Homo sapiens: one gene and its partner. The protein of the gene in region 2 purifies or fractionates together with the protein of the main gene of each other region. This does not show direct contact. Each region holds a gene or a part of one and is shown on either strand. Other genes may lie near its edges. The genes, in order: DRC8 and TEX36.

Region 1 (3,990 bases), on a different chromosome or scaffold from region 2:
TATAGTGGTGAAGCCATCTTCAAATAGAGACCCGTGTGTGTGTGTGTGTGTGTGTGTGTGTGTGTGTCTTGTTATAACAGAATATCTAAGTTTGGAAAATTGTTCACTTCCCTTTACTTTATCTTCCCCTTTGCTTGTAAGTTGCCATATAGTTGCCATATAAGATGCCAAGATCGGAGAGAATTGCAAGGAGGAGGCAGTGGCCATGCCATATATTTTTCCATTGTGACTGCTTGTGCTTCATTCTGCTCTTTCAGGAGCTGTACATTTGCACACCATAACATTTCTCAGTATTCTTACTCAGTATTCAGGACAATGCTCCCATGACAGATATGCGGAGTGGGTGAGAATTCTAAAGACAAAGGGAGAATTGCCACTACCTTACACTATCAACTTCCACTCAACCTTCTTTTCTCTAGTTCCAATGATCTCAACTCCTTTAGCTACTCCATAAATGGTGACATGCTGGATCAGCAAATATAAATGTTTACACTAAGTTATTATTATCCCAAATGATATTTGTAATTGGCACTCATAAAAAAATAAATTAGTAATATTTATTTTGATAAATCACCTTCCACACTCAGATTGATGAAGCATTTGTTATTGTTTAAAAAAGAAGCCTTCATTACACTGCTACTCGTTTTCGAGTGGTTCGTTCTGCCCCCTCTTAAGATCTTTACATGCCAAACCTTGGGTAATTAAGTCATTTTCATTTTGTCAGCTTAATTAATTCGAAGGTGACCTGAGTTTTATTGTAGAAAATAAACAACAATCCATTCTAATGTTAAAATGTTTTAAGAATAGTTTTTAAATAAATAGTAATTTATCATTCTGTAAGGCTAGACATACTAAATTTGGTTTAAAGTGTTACGATCATCTTTAAAAACAAAGTGTCTTAAAATAGTTATGTCACAAGGTATTAAATATCACATATAGGAATCCTAAGATAAGATGTGAAATTAACAAGAACAAGCAATTTCTAAAATTGTTCTTTCAATCAGAAATTATCTTTAGAACATTTAATTTTCATCTATCACCATCATTGTTATATAGTCCTTGTAATTAATTGAATTTGATTCTGGATCAATTGCAGCAGACAACATTTCTTCCATTTCCTCTTGAGAAAAAGGCTCACCTCAGAGAGACAAAAAGGAAAATTTATCATTTAGGATCATCTGATTTTTTTCTCTTTCCACTAGCCAGCTTAATAGCCATGGAGCCCCACAAGCTCCCACAGTGCCACTAGTTACGCTCCCTGGAGCTGTAGAGCCAGGACATCACGACAGTCCAGAGGTTCAAAGACAAGGCTATTGTACACCCTGGTAGATTCTGGACTTCTTTTAGCCTGCAGATGTCATAGATCAAGCAACCTCTAGAACACGTCATTTCAGGCAAAACAGTAGGAAGACATACAGACATCATGAACAAGGTTATTTATTTAGATTAAAACTTTTGAAATTACCAGAGGATTAACTTGAAGCCCCAGTATTTGATGAAAGATGGAAGGAAGATAACTGAGTGGTTAAAGCACAAGTTTGGATCCACATGCTGGCTGCCTCTCACGAGCTCTGAGATCTTGAGCAAGTCACTTCACAGCTCCCCACCTTAGCTTACCTGTCTCTAGAATGGGGGTGATAACGACACCACCTGTCACATAGGGTTGTCATGAGAATGAAACGTGTTATGATTTGAATGGGACTTAGAACAGTACCTGGCATAGAAGCAGCAACATGCAAGTGTTTGTTTAAAAAATTGTTCTGAGATCTTCCCGGCTGCTAAACACTGTCTGATGCAATACACATTCCTGGACACTTAGGGACTTCTATCTTGTAGGAACTTGATTCAGTGTGATTTATTTTATCATATGACATCCAGGGCTGTAGGAATGCATATTCTCAAACTAGTGTGTTTGATACTTTGTGGATATTAGGATGAATGTGCAAGTAGCTTGAATCCATATTGTTATATAGCATAAATGTACTTAAAAACAATTTGTAGAATTCTGAGACTCTCAAAGCAGCAATTCTTAAGCTCCTATTTTACCAAACTAGTCAACTGCTATTACACTTAGCTGATGGGTCTGTTATATTAAATCGTAACTTAGATTTGTATAGATTTACATCTTACATATTACTTCCAAACATATTGGTTCATATATGTGGAAGGTTTGTAATAATACTTGCTGAGTGAATAATTGAAAACATATGTATTCTTATTTGACCATACCTGTCCTATGCTTAGTCCGCTGAGATACTCAATAGTTGATCTTTAAGTACCATGAACTCTCTGTAAACATACCATTTTCGAAATTATCACACAGCACCTCCAAGTAAACCACGTGGTCGCACTGTCTCTGTATACACTGCGGTCTGTTCTGACCTTTCTGTTTGAGTCAGTCTCATTACCATCATACTCGCCATCGAGGGCAAAGCCTTGGTGGTACTTTGGATTCAGCTCTCAGCTTTGTCGCCTACACTCTGTTACTCATCATGACCCATGGATCCTGCCACAGACAGTCCTATTGTACCAATCCCTTCTTCCCATTGCCATTCCCACTGCCAGGTCAGGCCCTTATTTGGGTGCCCTCAAAATGCTGAAATAACCTTCTAAGTGGCCTCCCTAGTCCAACCTCTTTCTTATGCATCTAACAAACCGACCAGCACCAGAAAAACCTTCTCACAATCACTCACACACCATGTGAGTCATCTGCTCAAAAGCCTGTAATACTTCTCCATCGCCCACAGGATGAATTCCAAACTCCTGAGCCTGGGACTCCACAATTTAGTCCCAGTAAGTCTACTGAAGTTAATTTCCTGCTGTTTGCCAACATTACCCTCTGGGCCAGCTAGGCTTATTTTCTCTCTGAAATAGCATGTTCATTCCTACCTCCCCATTTTTGTTCAGACTGTTTTACACATCGATAATGTCTCCCTCTCATTAGCCCCTTCACCTGGTCTTCATCATCTACTCATTCACTCATTCATTCAACAAACATTTGTTGATATCTACCATGTGTGACAGAATTATAATGCACAAGAGTTTACCTTTGCCCTCAACAATTTAACCATATACATTCTACCATCTCAAAAAACCTATTTTCTCTTTAAGTCTTCCCAAACCAAGTTTTCCAGGCTGGGCCAGCCCTAGTTGATCTTCTGATATTTAGCTTTCTATTGTCTTGTATTGTGAATTATTTTATGTTAGTTTTATTTCCCAAATAAGATTGTAATATCCTTGAGAGAGGAAGTAGATTTAAGTATCATTATACCTTACTACACTTACTAAATATTAAACATATAGTAGGCACACAACAGTAGGAAAATCTAACTGTTTGGGCCATTTTGACTAAATTCATGTTGCCTGATATATAACCTAGGATTTACTTTCTTTAGACTAATCCTCAGGATGAAGAAGCTGATGCTTTGAAAGTCGTAACATCCCCATCAGAATTAATCCCGAAGGTAATTTTAACAATGGCGTCAGAGTTCTTGGGTGGCAGCTGTGACGGCCTTGCCATTCTGACCCTCACTCTCTGTATTCCGCCTTAAGGTGGATGAAGCTGGAATGGTCAAACCAGTTGTGCGTGTAGATGCAGTCTTAGTCTTCCCTACTCAAAATCACTTGCGCTTTTCATTCTGCCTCAAGTGATTAGCAACTCTGAGTCATTCAGGACCCAGTCTGTGAACCAGAGAGCTCTAGCTTTGTATGGGAGAAGGCAAGGGGACCAATATGAGGATGGTTTCAGGAGACTGTCCATCAGGCTACTGACCTTCAGTGTAAACAAATTTACACATCAGCCTAGCAGAGAGAATTCCTAAAGGAAATATGTTGGCATATATATATAAGTGTGCAGGTTTTATGTGTGTGTATGCATATATGTATGATGGGCCATGTTCAAAACAAATATATATGGTTCAATTAACATTAAAAAAGGACATTTTTAGTGTTAAAAATGACCTCAGTATTCAATTGAGGCTACATTATCTG
Region 2 (3,834 bases):
AGGGGAGGTAACGTCTAGGAGGGAAAAAGAGGGGGTAGAAGGATGTGAAGCAAGAAAAATGAGGACTGAGGATTATCTAGAATATGTCCTTGCAATCTCCCAACAAAAGCCTGGGAAGGAAACAGGACTGGGCAGAAGAGGGGTAGTCCCAACAAGGGCCTCTGTTGACCCGGCTGGGAGCTCTGGACATTGGGTGGCCACTCAGAGCTGGGGAGAGGGGACCCAGTCTCTGTGCACCAAGCAATGAGGCATTGGATTTATTCCTGAGCTACCCCCAGAAGAAGGCGTGACCCTAGGGAGGCAGCTCTCTTCAGATAACAGACCTGTAGGTGTGGGCAGTGAGGGCCATGCTCCCAGCAGCCAGAGTGATGAGTCTTTCATTCCTGAAGGGGGGTGTGGCTAGCTCTTATGGCAAGAGAAGCTCACCCCAATGTTATTTGAATGGTGCCTCTTAAAAGCCACCCCAACAAAGTGAGCTCTGAAGCAGGACTCTCTAGGAGGAAATGAATGGAAATTAAAAAGACAAGACCCAATTCAATGAAAATTCCCATAAAGGGAGAAGGAAGCATAATGTGGTTGGGTCAGAGGCTGGACATTCAGAGGTCCTGAGTCCACCCCAGGTCTCTCTCCTATCTCCTAGGTGAGCCTGATGAGAGAGACTAAACTTTCTCAAGCCTCGGTTTCCCTATCTGTAAAATGGGAATAATAATACCTACCTGATATGGTAGATTTGATACAAAGAGGAAATGTATACACTCCAATAGTGTGAATAGTTTGCAAATGTTTTTGGCTAAATAGCAATCACATTTTCATTCTCCATTCGTCAATTTATGAACACTTAGGTTGATTCTATGTCTTTGCTATTGTGAATAGTGCTGCAATAAACATGCAAGTGCAGGTATCCCTCAGATATATTGATTTTTTTTAGTAGATACTCAGTAGTAGCATTGCTGGATCAAATGGTAATTTCTCGTTTGAGAGTTTTGAGAAATCTCCATACTATTTTCCATAGTGGCTCTACTAGTTTACATTTCCACCAAAAGTGTATAAGAGTTCCCTTCTCTCCCCATCCTCGCCAACATCTGTTATTTTTTGTCTTTTTAGTAATAGCTATTCTGACTGGGATAAGATGATATCTCATCGTGGTTTTTATTTGCATTCCCCTGATGATTAGTGATGTTTAGCATGTTTTCATATGCCTGTTTCCCATTTATATGTCTCCTTTTTTAAATTTTTTAAATTTTTTATGTGTACATAGTAGCTGTATATATTTATGGGGTACATAAGATATTTTGATACAGGCATACAGTGTGTAATAATCACATCAGGGGAAATGGAGGATCCATCACCTCCAGCATTTATCATTTCTTTGTGTTACAAACAATCCAATTATACTTTTAGTTTAAAATGTACAATAGATTATGATTGACTGTAGTCACCCCCCTGTCATGCTATCAACTACTAGATCTTATTCATCCTAACTATATTTTTGTACCATTTTCCATCCCCATGTCCCTCACCACTACCTTTCCTAGCCTCTGATAACCATCATTCTACTCTCTATGAGTTCAACTGTTTTAATACTCAGCTTCCACAAAGGAGTGAGAACATGTGAAAAGTTTGCCTTTCTATACCTGGCTTATTTTACTTAACATTTCCTCCAGTTCCATTTACATTGTTGCAAATGACAGAATCTCATTCATTTTTATGGCTGAATAGTACTTCATTTTGTATGTGTACCATATTTCTTTATCCATTCATCTATTGATAGACACTTAGGTTGCTTCCAAATCTTGGCTATTGTGAATAGTGCTGCAATAAACATGGGAGTGCAAATATCTCCTCAGTATACTGATTTCCTTTCTTTTGGGTATATACCTAGCAGTGGGATTGCCGAATCACATGGTAGTTCTATTTTTAATTTTTTGAGGAACCTCTATACTATTTTCCATAGTGGCTACTATGGTTTGGCTCTAATATGGTTGTCCCCATGCAAATCATCTTGAATTAGAATCCCCAAATGTCAGAAGAGGCGCCTGGTGGGAGGTGATTGGATCATGGGGGCGGATTTCCCCCTTGCTGTTTTCATGATAGTGAGTGAGTTCTCATGAGATCTGATGGTTTAAAAGTGTGGCACATCCCCCTTTGCTCACTGTCTCTCCTGCTGCCATGTAAGATATGCCTTGCTTCCCTGTCACCTTCTGCCATGATTGTAAGTTTCCTGAGGCCTCCCCAGCCATACAGAACTGTGAATCAATTAAACCTCTTTTCTTTATAAATTACCAGTCTCAGGTAGTCCTTTATAGCAGTGTGAAAACAGACTAATACAGTGGCTGTACTAATTTACATTTCCACCAGCAGTGTACAGGTGTTCTCTTTTCTTGATATCCTCACCAGCATTTGTGATTGCCTGTCTTTAGGATAAAAGCCATTTTAACTGGGGTGAGATGATATCTCATTGTAGCTTGGATTTCCATTTATCTGATGATCAATGATGTTGAGCACCTTTCCATATACCTGTTTGCCGTTTGCATGTCTTCTTTTGAGAAATGTCTATTCATGTCCTTTGCTCACTTTTTAATGGAATTACTTGGTTTTTTGGTTGTTGTTGTTGTTGTTGTTGTTTTACAGTTGAGTTGTTTGAGTTCCCTGTATATTCTGGATATTATTCCCCTGTCAGATGAATGGTTTGCAAATATTTTCTCCCATTCAACAGATTGTCTGTTTACTCTTTTGATTGTTTCCTTTGCTGTGCAGAAGCTTTTTGATTTAATATAGTTCCATTTGTCTATTTTCATTTTTGTTGTTTATGCTTTGGAGATCTTAGTCATAAATTTTTTGTCTAAACCAAGGTTCAGAAGAGTTTTCTCTAGGTTTTCTTCTAGTGTTTTTTACAGTTTCAGATCTTATATTTAAGTCTTCAATTCATTTTGAGTTGATTTTTTTATATGGTGAGATATAGGTGTCCAGTTTCTTTCTTCTGCATGTGGCTATCCAATTCTTTCAGTACCATTTATTGAACAGGGTGCTGCTTCCCCGATATAAGTTCATATTGGCTTTGTCAAAGATCAGTTTTCTGGGTTCTCTATTCTGTTCCATTGGTCTGTGTGTCTAATTTTATACAAATGCCATGCTGTTTTGGTTACTATAGTCTTGTAATAAGTGATGCCTCCAGCTTTGTTCATTTTGCTCAAGATTCCTTTGGTTATTCTGGCTCTTTTTTATTCCATATGAATTTTAAGATTGTTTTTTCTAATTCTGTGAAGAATGACATTGGTATTTTGATAGAGGTTGCATTGAACCTGTAGATTGCTTTAAGCAATATGGTCATTTTAATGATGTATTCCGACGCAGGAGCATGAGATATTTTTCCATTTGTTTGTGTCATCTTTAATTTCTTTCATCAATGTTTTATAGTTTTTCTTATAGAGATATTTTACCTCCTTGGTTAAATTTATTCTTATATATTTTTGTAGCTATTATAAATGAAATTGCCTTCTTGATTTCCTTCTTAGCTAGATCATTGCTGATATATATAAAAGCTACTGCTTTTTGTATGTTGATTTTGTATCCTGCAACTTTACTGAATATATTTATCAGATCTAAGTGGGGTTTTTTTTGGTAGAGTATTTAGGTTTTTCTAGATATAATATCATGTCCTCAGCAAAAAGAGACAGTTTCACTTCTTCTTTTCCAATTTGGATGCTTTTTATTTCTTTCTCTTGACTGATTGCTCTGGCTAGGACTTCTAGTACTATGTTGAATAGGAATGGTGAAAGTGAGAATCCTTGTCTTGTTTCAGTTCTTGGAGCAAAGGCGTTCAACTTTACTCCA

Evidence for each region.
Region 1: the proteins of TEX36 (region 2) and DRC8 purify together in Homo sapiens (affinity purification with mass spectrometry; one large-scale study listed by BioGRID and IntAct). This does not show direct contact.

Annotation. Positions count from the first base shown.
Region 1 is NC_000001.11:245,084,393-245,088,382, reverse strand, and holds the end of DRC8 (dynein regulatory complex protein 8), read right to left. Parts: exon of another isoform or gene 1,624-3,990; coding exon of another isoform or gene 1,589-1,623; exon of another isoform or gene 1,139-1,588; coding exon 1,023-1,138; 3' UTR 546-1,022; downstream 1-545. UniProt on the Homo sapiens protein: Component of the nexin-dynein regulatory complex (N-DRC), a key regulator of ciliary/flagellar motility which maintains the alignment and integrity of the distal axoneme and regulates microtubule sliding in motile axonemes.
Region 2 is NC_000010.11:125,662,476-125,666,309, forward strand, and holds part of TEX36 (testis-expressed protein 36), read right to left. Parts: intron 1-3,834.